Regions from separate parts of the Homo sapiens genome. Here region 1 is linked to region 2. The links come from fine-mapping of genetic effects on gene expression. A gene starts in region 2. The other region holds a variant in brackets. All regions are shown on one strand. Distances are from middle to middle. Region 1 overlaps PELP1 (proline, glutamate and leucine rich protein 1). Region 2 holds the start of ARRB2 (arrestin beta 2).

Region 1 (8,000 bases), 36 kb before region 2:
ACACCAATGTCAGTTGTTCCTCTCTGGATCGTCAAAAAGAGGACAGCTATGGAGACATCTGGGGAATACTATGGACACCCTGAAAAGCCCAGCAGACACTTGAGCTTCTGGCTGGGGACCCAGGTGTGGCAAAAGGCAGAAGCAGCAGTCGCTATCTAAGGACATAACTTTATTGGAAACAAAGAGTGGGGTGCAGAAGATGGCTAGGAGTCAGGCTCTGTGGGAGGTGGTGGCTTCTCATCATCAGGGGGACAATCGATGAAGTCGGCCAGCATGGCAGCTGTGTCATCCTGCTCCTTTTAGGCACAAAGATACAAGATTCAGAATAGTCACACACACATACACAGAAGAATGGTTCAGGCTGGGCAAACCTCTCCTAAGAGAAGCAGCTGCCACCCCTTCTCCCGCCAGCCCCACCTTCTCGCCCAAGGAACCTTCCCTGCCTGGCCTCTCACCTTTTCCTGGAGAGCTTCGGCCTCTGTCTCTGTCTCCATCTCTTCTTCTGCAGGTGTCTCTGGTGGGGGCTGCACCTTGTCACTCCCATCCTCAGTCTCCTCTTCCAACAGGGTTGGGGGAGCAGAGGGCTCTTCTTCAACAAGCTCCTGGGGAGGGGGCCCTGCCGCAGGGCTTTCCCCTTCCCTCTCCACCTCTCCCTGGGAGGGGAGCGCTTCAGGGGCCAGGGTGGGAGCTGTGTCAGCCCCACGCTCCTCCTCCGTCCCTGGCTCCTCCACTTCCAAAAGCAGCCCGGGTTCAGGTTCGGGTTCTGGCTGCACCTTTGGGGGAGACTCAGGGGGAGGCAGAGCTGGAGGCAGGGTTGGGGGTGGAGGTGCACCTTCTTCTACCTCCCCTCCTGCTGTGCCAAACTCCAGGTCTTCCACCTCTTCCAGTTCTTCTTCCTCCTCCTCATCCTCCTCTTCTTCTTCTTCCTCTAACTCACCTTCTTCTTCCTCAAATTCTTCCTCAAACTCTTCTTCCTCCTCTTCTTCCTCTTCAAAATATTCCTCTTCATCCTCTTCCTCTTCCTCAAAGTCTTCCTCCTCTTCCTCTTCTTCCTCTTCTTCTTCTTCCTCTTCTTCCTCTTCCTCCTCCTCTTCATCACTGCTGTTGATATTAATAACTGTCAAATCCTCTTCCAGGGCTGGGGGTCCTCCCCCACCAGGAGTCCCTTCAGGGACCAACTGGGGTGGAGGGAGCGTCACAGGACCAGGAACAGGCGGCGGCGGAGGTGGGGGTGGCGGGAGAGGCCCTGGGGCTGCAGGAAGTTCTTCAGGCTCCTCCTTCGCTGGCACAGGAGGGGAGGCTGTTGGTGGCCCAGTGGGGGCTATAGGGGGTGGTGTGGCACCTGAGGGTGGTGGGGGTGGCAGGGGGGGAAGCCCCTCGGGCACGATCACCACGCTGTCATCAGAGTCACTTTCCAAGGAGATCTCCACATCAGATGCCTCCTCCTTGTCATAGTGGACAAAGGCTGGTCTGGGCACTCTCCCCCCAAAAGTTTCATCTGGGGGTATAGTAGGTGGGGGAGTCCCACTAGGGGCAAGGATGGGGTCCTCATTTGAGCCTGCCCGGTGGTTCTCAGGGCCAGGAAGAAGCCGGGGAGGGACAGACACTAGGCCTGGGACAGAAAGGCCTAGGTGGTTGGCTGTGGTGGGAGGTCCAGGGCGTGCCGAGGGCACAGGGCCTGCTGAGGGCATGGGGCCTGCTGAAGGCATGGGGCCTGCTGAGGGCATGGAGCCCACTGAGGGCATGGGGCCCGGAGGATGGAACGGTGGGGCCCTGAAGGGCGATGGGGCCTCAGGAGGGGGAACTGGAGCAGGTGTGGGGCAGGTGGGGCCCATGGGCTGCAGGGGAGGAACCCGGGGGTGGGTCAGAGCAGCACAGGTCACCAGTGCTTCTGAGCAGAAAGAGGAGACCTGAGGAAAGAAGAAAGGGCAAGTGTGAGCACCAGAAATACTGGGAGTCTCTTGGAAACAAGAGACTCCAGGAACCAAAGAGGGGCTTGGCCCATCACAGTTACCTCAAGGCTATCTTCTCGCTGGCCGAGGGAGAAGGCTTGCAGGGCACAGGCAAGAGGAGGTGGGCAGCGAGGAGACGGGGCCAGCAGCAGCGCCAGCAGCAGGCAGTAGAGTTCACGGCGGCAGCGGGAGCTCGTGTACGGGGAGCTGCCTAGGACCTCACCCTGCTGTACACCCATGACCAGGGGGAGGACCAGGTCATGCAGTCTCTGAAAAGGACAGAGCACACCTGGAAACATCCCCAAGACCACCCAACCCTTCTCCAGAGCCTACTCCCAGGTCGGAATGGACCCACCTCTGGGCCACACCCCCCAATGTGTACAGAGCAGGGGCCCCTTCCCCTATCTCCACGGAGACGAGGCTCCACTAACCCTGTGAGTCTCCTCCTTGATGAGAGGCCCACACATGAGGATGGTCCGGCTGAGGCCTGGGGAAGAAGAATGGTGTGTAAAGGGTAGGCTCCCAACAGACTGACGGCAAGGGCTTCTGAAGCATACAGCCCAAAATGGGCATCAACTCTGCCACTGCCTATCTTGGCCAAGTCATTTAACTTCTCAACTAGAAAATGGGGATCATAAAAGTACCTCTACTGTATAGGGCCACTGACGGTATTTAATTGAGACAATGTAAGTAAAAAATTATAAATTTTATAATTTTGCATTTATATATTTGGGAACAATCGGTTCTCCCCTTCCCATGGGATGGGGTGGCAGGCAGTGAAATATATGGGACCCAGAGGAAAGGCATCCATTAACTGCACAGTATCCGACTAGCAACCTGTGGACAGGTCAGTGGTTACGGTGAGAGCAGGGAGCTCCCCCAGGCAGCCTGCCCTTGGAAGAATGTCAGCTTCACAGGGAGGAGCCTTCCCCGCATGCTGGAACTCTGCCTGATAGAAAGTGGATACACCAAGGACGTGCTGAACGCCGGAGGAAGCGAAGGCCTTGGAGGGGCTGTGTCGGCTACCAGAGCTCCCGGTCTAACCGCAGGACCCGAGGCCGCCTGCAGC[C/T]CTGGCAACAGGGCGGCTGCTTGGGTGCCTCCTCCTGGCCTCTCTGCGGGCTTCCGCCTGGCTCTGCATTTCACAGGCACCTTCCCCTTCACCTGCTGTTTGGGGGATCACTTATCGCAGTGGACGAAGGCTGGTCTAGGCACTCTCCCCACAAAAGTTTCACCTAAGGGTATAGTAGGTAGGGGAGTCCCACTAGGGGAAAGGATGGGGTCCCGTTTGAGCCCCAGTGGTCCAGGGCACAGGCCTCACCCACCTCTGAGTGCAGCCGCACACACGTCGCTGTTGGCATTGCTATCCCCTTTCCGGTGGCTTGGCGGGGCCATAGCTTCCCCCACATCCAGCTTTAGCTTCTTGGGGGCGCTAGGCTTCCCAGTCTGCAAACTCCCATCAGGGCTCCCCCGCGGGCTACGCAGCTGGAGGCAGAGAAAACATAAATCACATCCACAGGCAAACAACAAGGCAAGACAGCCACAGCAGACAGTGTTTCCTGAGCAGGCACACTTGGTCAAAGGGCACAGGATGAGTCCTAAGGCGGAGCTGAGGCCTCCTCACCTTAAGGGCATCAGCTGGCGGGGAGATGTCGCTGAGCAGGTGGGTGAGCAGGGCCTCTCCAGAGGCTCCTCCCTGAAGCATTCCCGCCGAGGCCCCACAAACCTGCACCCACAGCTCTAATATCGCATACACCTTGGTCCGAACCGTGCTGTGTCATGAGCAAAGATGGCAGTTATGAATGGGGGGTCAACATGCCAGAAGCCCCAGCCCACCTGCACCCCCTCACCCCCCTCTCCTCTTTATTCCCTTCCTGCCTTCCTGGATGGTCACCTGTAAGGCCTCTCCTGGCCTGGAGAGAGGGAATCTCTACCGATGCTCCAGGAATTGAGGACCTGGGGAAGCAGGCGGCCGATCAGGATCCCAAAGCGCAAGAGCCGGCTTCCACACCTGGGGCAGAGAAGGAATGGTGACCCTCGTTTCTGGCACGCCCTATCCCTTCACCACAGCCAGCCCAATCCCACTCACGCGAGGATGAGTGCAGACAGCAGGTCCAAGGCCTCAAGGTGGATAGAGGGCAGCAGCAGCAGCCGCAGGGGACCATCTCCATGCAAGCTCTGGAGAAAAAAGGGGCAGAGATAAAGAGTGGAGGAAGAAAGTGAGAGCCAGAGAGAGACAGAAACAGGGAATGACCATTTACATATGTACACATAGGTAAGAAACCCAACCCCTGATCTCAGCTCTCCCAACAAAATCAAACCCCTATCCTCTAAAATAGACCCTGGATGGAAGGTAAGAAGGATGGCTGGGCCTCTCAGCAATGACTCAGCTGATCCCCAAATTCACCCTCCCCCAAGGAAGCATTTGCTACACTCTGACACTGTGCTCCTGTGTCACGACACATAGGAAGTGATGTTATTTGGACAAAAGTAGGAAGCTCTCTGGGACGACTCCAGGATGACACTGTTTGGGGAGACTCAGGTCCCCAGTACTTTCCTGGTTGCCTGGTATCCTGAGCAAGGGCTCTGAAGAGATGACAAATCCCACTTACAATATTCTTGCTACTGACGCTGAGGGTCCGGCAGATGAAATCCAGGATTTCCTGCACAGGGACGGACACGGGAGCTCCAAACTCAGAGCTAAAGAGAATCAGAGCAGGGAGACCTTCAGAGCAGGCTCCCTGGCATAACTCCCACACCCACCTTCATCTCCTTTCTCCTGATGAAGGCGACACTCCCTCATCAATCCCTCCTGCTCCACGCCTCCGCTCCCTCCAATACCCACACACACCTGAGCATGAGCCCTAGGCAGCGGGCCAGTCCCGAAAACCTCTGCCGAAGCTGGAGAAGGACATGGGCATCACCATCTTCTGAGGACAGCAGCATCTCCACCCCAGGGCCTTCATTCTGCACAGGAGCTGGCAGAAGCACAACTACCCTGTACACTGTCTTTCTTCCATCCCCTCCTCTGTCATTTCTGGTGGACGACCTGCCTGTATTCTAACCCATTTTCCCCAAAAACCAACTGCCCCATGTCTCTGGGCTCCCCTCCTGTTCCTTCCTGCCACGCTTCCTCACTATTGTTCCACTAACTAGCAGCCCTGGTCCCTACCAGTCTCTGCTCCCTCGTACAGGGCCCCCAGCAGGGTGTGCAGTGAGGCCAGCAGACTGTGTAGCTCCTGCTCCCAGCTCTCGGTGTGCTTCAGGCCTTGGGAAAAGCCAGCCCCTAAAGAGGGCAGCCGGGAATAACACTCACAGGCCAACTGCGGGAGAAAGGACAGAAACCTGGTCAGATGGGAATCCAGCCCAGCCACAGAACCCCCAGCCCCACTGACACCCAAAAGAGATGGAGATCAGAGAGAGCTCTGAGGGAAACCTGAGATGGGACAATGAGGCCGAAGGACACAGATGGGCATATGAAGGCAGGACAGAAAAGCTAGAGGAGGAGCAGCAAGAGACAATCCAGGCTCAGATCCCCGGGCTCTCCCTCTCCCTCCCTGCCCTTTACCTGTTGGAGCTGAGGGCTCAAGGCATCCACCCTAGACAGAAAAAATGAGGCCAGCTTGCCCTGGATGTGGAGGAAAAAAGGAAGAGGCCAGTGAGCCAGCTCTGAGAGCCAGAGATGTACATCCCATCCGTTCCCAGCAGCAGACTCTAAGCCCAGGTCTCTTTTTCCTGTAGACACAAGAAGCAAAGCCCTCTATGGGGCATCAACACCGGGCACGGACATGCTTTCATGGTAAAAGACTCCTCAACGCCAGCTCTGGTCCTCGGCTTCCTGCTTGGGAGCGAAAAGGGCCTGGCCCTGTCCCAGAGACAGCTGGGCTTCCTCCTTGACAGTTTTTGCAAAATTTTTCCCTCAAGCCAAAAGGACATAGTACTAAAAAACAGTCTCCACACTCCAACTCTCTACCAGCTCACACACAAAAACGAGGGTCCAAGCTGGAAGTTAAGACACTAACCAGAGGTATGAGGGCAGGACAAGGTCAAAAAAGAAGGCTGCTAGAGCAGAAGTAAGGCAGCAAGTCTCGGAGTAGCAATCTGTCATTCGGCACTTTCTCTGCCTGCTGTGTGAAGGTGCTAGGGCAGGAGTGTTTAACCTGAGAACCACAATTTAGTTGGATATACAATCATAGGGGGCCTGTGATCATGGATGGGGAAAAAAATTACTCCCACTAGCCTATTTGTAAAATGTAGTGTTTCCTTCACTTATAAATGCAGACAAATAGCCACAGTAGTATCAGCAGTACCTGTGACTGTCACTAATAGAATCATTTTCATGTCACATTATAATTGTAACACATCCTGAAATATCATTCACATGCATCACTAATTTGCAATTATAGTCGTTGTAAGACCTGCTTCTAGATCTTATTACTTAACATGTCAATAAAAAAGCACAGGCTGGGTGCAGTAGCTCACGCCTGTAATCCAGGCACTTTGGGAGGTCAAGGCAGGCGGATCACTTGAGCCAAGGAGTTTGAGACCAGTCTGGGCAACATGGAGAAACCCTATCTCTACTAAAAATACAAAAACTTAGCCGGGTGTGGTGGCGCATGCCTGTAGTCCCAGCTACTTGGGAGGCTGAGGTGGGAGGACCACCCAAGCCCAGAACCGAGATCATGCCAGTCAGTGTACTCTAGCCTGGGTGATGAGAGTGAGACCCTGTCTCAAAAAGAAAAAAAAAAAGGCCAGGCACGGTGGCTCATACCTGTAATCCCAGCACTTTGGGAGGCTGAGGTGAGCAGATCACGAGGTCAGGAGTTCAAGACCAGCCTGGCCAACATGGTGAAACCCCATCTCTACTAAAAGTACAAAAATTAGCTGGGCACAGTGGTGGGCACCTGTAATCCCAGCTACTTGGGAGGCTGAGGCAGGAGAATTGCTTGAACCCAGGAGGCGGAGGTTGCAGTGAGCCGAGATCACGCCACTGCACTCTAGCCTGGGTGACAGAGCAAGACTCTGTCTCAGAAAAAAAAAAGAATTAGTAAGGATAACAAGACAAGCATATGGAAAAACAAGAATCTGGAGCCAACACTGGCAACATACAGAGAAGGGGAAAGAGCAGGCTCACGCTTTCCCCGAGACATCCTAGTGGTGCACACCTGTAGTCCTAGCTACTTGGGAGACTGACGTGGGAGGATCACTTGAGCCCAGGAGTTCAAGGTTACAGTGAGCTACAATCTTAACACTGCACTCCTGGGTCACAGAGCGAGACCCTATCTCCAAAAACGGCTCAAAAAGCTGGACTGAAGCCAACAGAAGTCTGCTTATGTGACTGCAATAAAGCAGTGTACGGTGAAGCGACACGGCTCTAACCACAGGTTACCCTGGCTGACCCACAAAGCAAACCAAAGCAATGACTCGCTTGGAACAGTTCACTCAAAACGCGCACACACACAGCATGTCCTGGGGCTCTCTCAAGAGTAGGTCAGTCTTCCCACCCATTCCGAGGAACTGCTCATCAATGTGGCAAGGACGAGGAAGTGAGTTCAAGTCTCTGCAGGAATTGACCTCATGGACTCAGAATGCTTGATTCACATTACTTGGGAGTAGTAATCCTGAGCTTGGAGTCTACAATTACCCTGAGAGTATCCGGGGAATGTAACAGAAAACACAGACACTTCAAAACGGCAGTTATCAGTTTTCCTAAGTACTAGTCTGCGAGATTTTCCAAGTGCAAATTGCCCCTGGAGCCTCTGCATGACAGATTCTTATCTGAAGTGCTGGCAACCGACAAAGCCAAAACCCTCAACACCCTCAACAGAGGGAAGTTCTCCAGATGACCTTTTTTTTTTTTGAGACAGGGTCTCACTCTGTTACCCAGGCTAGAGTGCAGTGCCACGATCTCAGCTCACTGCACCCTCTGCCTCCCAGCTTCAGGGGATCTCCTGCCTCAATGTTCTAAGTAGCTGGAACCACAGGCACACACCACCACACCCAGCTAATTTTTTTGTATTTTTGGTAGAGGTAGGGTTTCACCATGTTGGC
Region 2 (8,514 bases):
TCACTGCAAGCTCTGCCTCCCAGGTTCAGGCCATTCTCCTGCCTCAGCCTCCCAAGTAGCTGGGACTACAGGCGCCTGCCACCATGCCGGCTAATTTTTTGTACTTTTTTGTGGAGACAGGGTTTCACCACGTTAGCCAGGATGGTCTTGATCTCCTGACCTCGTGATCCGCCCACCTCAGCCTCCCAAAGTGCTGGGATTACAGGCGTGAGCCACCACGCGCGGCCCGTTTGTTTTTGAGACGAAGTTTCACTATTCTCACTCAGGCTGGAGTATAACGGCACGATCTCAGCTCACTGCAACCTCCGTCTCCCAGGTTCAAGTGATTCTTCTGGCTCAGCCTCACGAGTAGCTGGGATTATAGGCTAAATTTCACGATGTTAGCCAGACTGGTCTCGAACTCCTGACCTCAGGTGATCCACCCCCCTCGGCCTCCCAAAGTACTGGGATTACAGGCGTGAGCCACTGCACCCAACCCCCTCTGCTTTAAAAACCAGTACTGGTTCCACATGTCCTTCTGTGGGGCCCTCCATCTCACTCCATCTGCTATACAAAATCCTCCACAGCCTGTTCCAGACTTCCCCACCAACACTACGCAACAGGACGTGCCTTGTCTCTCTCTTTGAAATGCCCTTTCTCAACTTCTGCCCAGCCAGGCGCGGTGGCTCACACCTGCAATTCCAGCACTTTGGGAGGCTGAGGCAGGTGGAACACAAGGTCAGGCGTTCGAGACCAGCTTGGCCAACATGGTGAAACCCCGTCTCTATTAAAAATACAAAAAGTAGCCAGGCATTGCAGGTGTCTGTAATACCAGATACTCACGAGGCTGAGGCACAGAATTGCTTGAACCCAAGAGGCAGGGGTTTTGTTGAGCCGAGATCCCACCACTGCACTCCAGTCAGGGTGACAGAGTGAGACTCCATCTCCTAAAAAAGAAAAAAAAAAAGAGGCTGGGCGCAGTGGCTCACATCTATAATTCCAGCACTTTGGAAGGCGCAAGCAGGCGGATCATTTGAGGTCAGGAGTTCAAGAGCAACCCGGCCAACATATTGAAACCCCATCTCTACTAAAATATATATATATAAACTAGCGAGGCGTGGTAGTGGACACCTGTAATCCCAGCTACCCGGGAGACTGAGGCAGAACAGCTGGAACCCAGGAGATGGAAGTTGCAGTGAGCCGACACAACACCAGTGTCCAGAATTTGTAGGGGGTCTCACTGACTTTAAGAATGAAGCCATGGACCCTCACAGCAAGTGTTACAGTTCTTAAAGGCAGCATATCCGGAGTTTGTTCCTTCTGACGTTCGGATGTGTTCAGAGTTTCTTCCTTCTGGTGGGTTCGTGGTCTCGCTAGCTCAAGAGTGAAGCTGCAGGCCTTTGCGGTGTTACCCCCCTTAAGGCCGTGTCTCCGAAGTTATTCATTCTTCTTAGTGGGTTCGTGGTTTCACTGGCTTCAGGAGTGAACCTGCAGACCTTCCCAGCGAGTACTACAGCTCATAAAGGCAGTGTAGACCCAAAAAAGGAGCAGCAGCAAGATTTAACCGCAAAAAACAAAAGAACAAAAGGTCTACCTAACAGAAGAGTACCCCAGTGCATTGCAATTGCCGGTTCAGGCAGCCTGCTTTTATTCTCTAATCGGCCCCACCCACATCCTGCTGATTGGTTCATTTTACAGAGAGCCGATTGGTCCATTTTACAGAGAGCTGATTGGTCTGTTTTGGCAGGGTGCTGATTGGTGCATTTACAATCCGTGAGCTAGACACAAAAGTTCTCCACGTCCCCACTAGATTAGCTAGATACAGAGTGTAGACACAAAGGTTCTCCAAGTCCCCACCAGAGTAGCTAGATACAGAGTGTGGATTGGTGCATTCACAAACCCTGAGCTAGACACAGGGTGCTGATTGGTGTGTTTACAAACCTTGAGCTAGATACAGAGTGCCGATTGGTGTATTTACAATCCCTTAGCTAGACATAAAGGTTCTCCAAGTCCCCACCAGACTCAGGAGCCCATTTGGCTTCACCCAGTGGATCCCGCTTGGGGGCCGCAGGTGGAGCTGCCTGCCAGTCCGCATGTGCTTGCACTCCTCAGCCCTTGGGTGGTCGATGGGACTGGGTGCCTTGGAGCAGGGGGCGGTGCTCGTCGGAGAGGCTCGGGCCGCACAGGAGCCCACGGAGGGGGAGGGGAGGCTCAGGCATGGCGGGCTGCAGGTCCCGAGCCCTGCCCCGAGGGAAGGCAGCTAAGGCCCAGCGAAAAATTGAGCACAGCAGCTGCTGGCCCAGGTGCTAAGCCCCTCACTGCCCGGGGCTGGCCGGCCACTCCGAGTGCGGAGCCGCCGAGCCCACGCCCACCCGGAACTCGCGCTGGCCCGCAAGCACCGCGCGCAGCCCGGGTTCCCGCCCGCGCCTCTCCCTCCACACCTCCCCGCAAGCTGAGGGAACCGGCTCCGGCCTTGGACAGCCCAGAAAGGAACTCCCACAGTGCAGTGGCGGGCTGAAGGGCTCCTCAAGCGCGGCCAGAGTGGGTTCCAAGGCCGAGGAGGCGCCGAGAGTGAGTGAGAGCTGCCAGCACGCTGTCACCTCTCACCACTGCACTCCAGCCTCGGCGACAGAGTGAGACTCTGTCTCAAAAAAAAAAAAAAAAACAAGAAAAAGAAAAAAAACTTCTGCGCATCCTTCAGAAAGACTGTCCTCATCTGTTCCCCGCTCTGGACAGCCTGCACTCCCTCCACCCCCGCCCGGGCCAATTGCTGTTAGCGGCTGTGTCTTCTGACTCAGACCTCTGTAATAGCATTCCTGGGTAATACCTGTGTATGTGTCTCCTCAACTATTCTAGGAAGGCAGGGGCCATGGTAATTCGTATGTGTCCCCATCGATTGGCATAGTGAATAGCATAACATAGGCACGGATGGATGGGTCCATAGATGGACCGATGGATGGGAGCGGGTGAGTGAGTGGATGTTAGCTGGGATGGGTGGGTGAAGGAGATGGATAGTCAGAGACATTGGAAAAGGGAACCCTGCGAAGATCAAATGCAAACACCAGGAGGAGCTGACACGCTGCAGTGAAGAAGCGGGAGGGCTGGCCACAGAAGGCGGCACGCTCCGAGTGGAGCAGGTGAGCGGCGCGCACTGAAGCAAGCATCACGCAATTGAACCGCTCACCCACGTGTTCCCCCCCACCATCCTCCTTCCCAGACGGCGCTTCAGCTCATTCCACCGCCCCCAGCAGCCCGGTCGCCCCCACCGCCACTGAGAAAGCAAACAAAGGGGAGGAGACCCCTGCAGGTTCTGGATGCCGAAGGCCAATCGAAAGACTTAGATCCCCTGGAAGGCGGGCGCCTTGGTTTAGGGGGGTCCAATCGGTTTCAAGGGGTTGCAGCGGGGCGGGGAGATGGGCGGGAGGAGTGGGAGCTGGCCCCGCGCGCGGGGGAGGGCTACCAGGCTGGGAAGGAGCGCGAAGGGCTGGGGGCGGAGCCAATGGCCCCGCGTGTCTGCTAGGAGAGGGCGGGCAGCGCCGCGGCGCGCGCGATCCGGCTGACGCATCTGGCCCCGGTTCCCCAAGACCAGAGCGGGGCCGGGAGGGAGGGGGAAGAGGCGAGAGCGCGGAGGGCGCGCGTGCGCATTGGCGCGGGGAGGAGCAGGGATCTTGGCAGCGGGCGAGGAGGCTGCGAGCGAGCCGCGAACCGAGCGGGCGGCGGGCGCGCGCACCATGGGGGAGAAACCCGGGACCAGGTAAGGGAGGTGGGGCCACGCGGCGGGGCATGGGCGGCGGCTCGGGGCGGGGGCTGGGACGGTCCCAGACGAGGGCGCAGCGGAGAGGATCTGGGGGCCGGACGCCTGGGTCCCTAGGGACAGCCATCCGGGGCCGCACGCGCAGGTCCTCGAGGATAATGAGGGTGGGGGGGAAATGCCCGGGCCCCTGCAGAAAGCGAGGCCTGAGGGGGATCAGAAAAACCGGTGTCGGGGTTCTCGCAGGGATGTGGGGCCAGACTACTGGGCTCTCCCGTGCAGGCTGCGATGCAGGGATGGAGGAAGGAGGAGCAGGTGGCTGGCCCCGAGGGGTCGTGTACGGGGAGGCTGGATGCCGGGACGGGGGGGATCCACTCCAGACTCGCGCCAAGCCAATGGAAAGCCTCCTATCCAATATCCCCCAGGTAGTCGCGCTGCCCACACCTGTCCCGAGGGCCGGGTGGCTCCTCACCCAAACTTCTACCTTCCCTTGGGTTGCCAGGAGCAACAGCTTCATCTTGGGGGAGCCGAGTGCGTGGCGACCCTCCCTGAAACTAGATCGTATCCCTCTCTCTGGGGGTGGGGGAGGCAGTATTCACCCTGGGCGCGCGTCCACTCCCCGGATGTTTTCTGTGCAATCGAGGCTCTTTCCTTCCACTGATACCCCGAGTTCTCTTTTTTGGTCTCTAGCAAAATCCACTTCCTGTTGTGACTCAACACCCCCAAGGGGCAAGGGGTGGATGCCTGAGTCGCAGGGGAGCGGGAGCAAAAGACGAAAAGGTTGGGGCTGTAGGCCTCAACTCAGAGGGTATCAGGAATAGGGAATTGGTCCTGAGCTCTGGCTTGCTCTGCAAAACATCATATCAACCCCACTTCCAACCTATAGAGTATGAGAACCCGGGTTTCTGAGCATCAAGTAGACGAGCATCAGAAAGAGATCATCAGAGAGATGATCCGTCTCCTGGATCAGGGTTTAAACATCCCAGAGAAAGGGGAAGTTGCTGACTTGTGGGAGGCCCCTGATTTCCGTCATGTGGTTCAGGGAGTGGGACGGATGGACCAAAGGAGACTGCTAACTTGGCACAATTTCCCTCACCCCCATGAAATTCTGGGCCACAGGAAATGGAGCGAATAGCAGGAAGTGTGAAAGGACATCTGCTTCAGCTACCCCTGCTCCCACTGGGCACCTCCCTGGTCATCCCCACACTCTGCCTCCTTGGCCAGCCTAGTATATGCACGCTGCTCCTCCCCAGCCTGGCAGGAGGTGGCTGGGTTAGGATCCAAAGGGCAAGTGCCTTGCAGCTGCTCCAGGGCAATTGCCCCAGAACCACACTCCAGTTGGCCCACTGATTGTGGCTGTCACAGCCCTGTGCCAGGGCTCCTAATGGGAGGACACCCTGGGACAAAGAGGAAAACCAGAAGCAAAGGGGAGGGAGAGCCTGGATGATGCCACGGCACTCAGCTCCCAAGTTGGGATGAAAGATAGGGTGTTTATTCTAGCGGCTACCATATCGATGTGTATTCTCTTTTATTGGTTAGGAATACCTGGGGCCCTCCATACCCTTTGCCTTACAACCTTTGGACAGCTTGGCTTTCTGGGAAGAAGGGGCAAGTGAAGTTGTAGCAGAAACTGGGCCTATGGTAGAAACCATGTAGGGCCAAAGGCCAGGGTCATTGCTCTCCTATATGCTCCAGCTGTCAGAGCTGGAGACCAGATGGAAAGATGGTTAGGTCTTACCCAGACACTGTGGTAACCTGCCCATTGGGGTCCTCTGGGAATGGGGTGGTAGACTTGGAAGAGGGATGGGCTAGTTGGCAGGATTTCACGTTTCTGCTATCTATCTGAGGATCCTTTCCAGGGATCACTGCTGAGGCAGAGTGGATTGGAAGGAGTAAGGTGGTGCTTCAAAGAACAGGCCCACAATTGGCCAGATCACTGGGGTTGCCAAACACTTCCTTACCCTCCCAGCAATGGGTGGAGTCCAGGCTTAAATTGTTTCAGCAACTGGAAAGCAAATAACCTTCAATTCAACAAACTATTTATGCCAACTGCAGAGACAGATAGTGTAATATTGATCGAGAGGATGGACTCGGAGCCAGACTGCCTTGGTTTCTATTAATTCCCACCATTTACTCCCTCTGTGACCTTGAAACACTTGACCTCTCTCTGCCTCAGTTTCCTCACCTGTAAAACAGAGATATTAGGAGCTCCATCACTGGGTGGTTTTATTTAATTTAATTAATTTATTTATTTATTTATTTTTTGAGACAAAGTCTTGCTCTGTCACCCAGGCTGGAGTGCAGTGGCTCAATCTCAGCTCACTGCAACCTAAGGCCGGGCACGGTGGCTCACGCCTGTAATCCCAGCACTTTGGGAGGCTGAGGCGGGTGGATCACCTGAGGTCAGAAGTTGGAGATCAGCCTGGCTAACATGGGGAAACCTCGTCTCTACTAAAAAAATACAAAATACAGGCCAGACACAGTGACTCAAGCCTGTAATCCCAGCCTTCTGGGAGGCTGAGGCGGGCGGATCACTAGAGGTCAGGAGTTTGAGATCAGCCTGGCCAACATGGGGAAACCCCATCTATACTAAAAATATAAAAATTAGCGGCCGGGCGTGGTGGCTCACGCCTGTAATCCCAGCACTTTGGGAGGCTGAGACAGGTGGATCACGAGGTCGGGAGATTGAGACCATCCTGACTAACACAGTGAAACCCCATCTCTACTAAAAATACCAAAATTCGCCGGGCGTGGTGGTGGGTGCCTGTAGTCCCAGCTACTCGGGAGGCTGAGGCAGGAGAATGGCGTGAACCCGGGAGGCAGAGGTCGCAGTGAGCCGAGATCGCACCACTGCACTCCAGCCTGGGCGACAGAGTGAGACTCCGTTTCAAAAAAAAAATTAGCCAGGCATGATGGCAGGCACCTCTAATCCCAGCTACTCAGGAAGCTGAGGCATGAGAATCGCTTGAACCCAGGAGGTGGAGGTTGCAGTGAGCTGACAGCGTGCCACTCTACTCCAGCCTTGGTGATAGAGTGAGACTCCATCTCCAAAAAAAAAAAAAAAATACAAAACATAGCCGGGCATGGTGGCTCACTCCTGTAATCCCAGCTACTCAGGAGGCTGAAGCAGGAGAATCACTTAAACCTGGGAGGCGGAGGTTGCAGTGAGCTGAGATCGCACCACTGCACTCCAGCCTGGGCAACAGAGTGAGACTCTGTCTCAAAAAACAGAGTATTACAAGAGATGACACATTTGAAACACTTGGAACAGTGCTGGGCATGGAGTAGTCACTCTGAAATGTTAGCAGCATTACCATCTTCATGATATGGCTGGCATTGTGCTGGAGATGCCTAAATTAATAAGGCCTCTGAGGCTCACAGTCTGAGGAGGGAGGGAGCTAACTATCCTTGTGTGCTACCACACCACAAGTAAAACATAAACAAGGTGTGACAGGAACCCAAAACAAGGAGCGACCAGGGTCTGGGCTGGGTCAGCTTCCTAAAGGCTGGGCCTTAAAAGACAAATAGGCTTTTAAGCTCTTGAGGTCGGAGTTGGGGACAGTTGGAGGTGAGTAGAGTCGAACTTGGGTAGGGCCTGTGGTAGAAACTATCTGAGGGCCAAAGGCCAGGGTCATTGCTCTCCTATATGCTCCAGCTGTCAGAGCTGTAGACCAGATGGAAAGATGGTTAGGTCTTATCCAGACACTGTGGCTACCTGCCCATTCGGGTCCTCTGGGAAGAGCCTGGGTGGTTCCTAGGGCAACCAGTGGCCATTACTGGGGAGGGAAGGGGACGAATGAGGGTGGACAAGACAAGGGGCATTTCCCCTTGCCACCACGTTAGAAATAGGAAGGACCTTCCGGGAAGAAGGGTTCCCCTTGCCACCACGTTAGAAATAGGAAGGACCTTCCGGGAAGAAGGGTTCCCCTTGCCACCACGTTAGAAATAGGAAGGACCTTCCGGGAAGAAGGGTTCCCCTTGCCACCACGTTAGAAATAGGAAGGACCTTCCGGGAAGAAGGGTTCCCCTTGCCACCACGTTAGAAATAGGAAGGACCTTCCGGGAAGAAGGGTTCCCCTTGCCACCACGTTAGAAATAGGAAGGACCTTCCGGGAAGAAGGGGAAAGGGGCAGAGCTGGGCAAAGCCCCACAGCCTCAGGCAGGAGGCCTGGGTGAGCACTGCTTCTCAGGCCTGGGAGGGAGAGGGTCCTGGTGTGGGGTCCCTGCTGAGTCTGAGGGAGGCAGTGGGGTTTCCCTTTCTGTTTTGTTAGGGTCTTCAAGAAGTCGAGCCCTAACTGCAAGGTGAGTCTCCACAGCACTTACCCTTTTGACCCTCCCTGGGCCCCAACAAAGCCCAGCCTTCCCCTAGACGATCCCCAACCTACCCAAAGATGATCCCCAACCCCTAGCTCCCCACTTCCTGTGACAGCTAAGCGCCGACTTCCTTCCCTCCTGAAGCCCCTTGCCGCAGAGGCTGCTCAGCCTGAGCCAGCCACAGGGCTGGGTGGGGCAGGCTTGGGTCCCCAAGCAAGACCACAGAGGAGGAGGCCAAAAGCAAGCCATGTGCCTGTAGCCCTCCTAGGAGCCAACCCAAGGTGCGTGGGGCTGGGAAAACCTAACAGCCCCCGGGCTATGGCCTATTTATCCTAGAGCCCCTTGAGGGGACCTAGTGAGGGTGGCAGCTGCTCTCTAGCTGGCTGGTTGGGCTGAGTTCTCCCCGAGGATCCAAACACACACACACACAGACACACACACACATACACACATACACACACACCTGGCTG

Evidence for each region.
Region 1: its variant is fine-mapped to the expression of ARRB2 in whole blood (INTERVAL, PIP 0.90).

The regions. Positions count from the first base shown.
Region 1 is chr17:4,671,236-4,679,235 of GRCh38, forward strand. PELP1 (proline, glutamate and leucine rich protein 1) reads right to left here. Exons shown (of 17, transcript NM_014389.3): 6 at 5,518-5,577; 7 at 5,122-5,272; 8 at 4,801-4,927; 9 at 4,562-4,649; 10 at 4,039-4,127; 11 at 3,844-3,960; 12 at 3,574-3,721; 13 at 3,275-3,434; 14 at 2,384-2,439; 15 at 2,015-2,221; 16 at 456-1,910; 17 at 1-296. The coding sequence ends at 204. Among named protein-coding and RNA genes, the nearest start is that of PELP1, 29 kb to the right of the region's middle. The variant C/T (reference allele first, on the strand shown) is at 3,022.
Region 2 is chr17:4,707,012-4,715,525 of GRCh38, forward strand. It overlaps ARRB2 (arrestin beta 2), which reads left to right and starts at 3,621. Exons shown (of 15, transcript NM_004313.4): 1 at 3,621-3,733; 2 at 8,002-8,032. The coding sequence starts at 3,711. RefSeq lists enhancers at 3,239-3,408, 8,051-8,120 and a silencer at 3,338-3,867.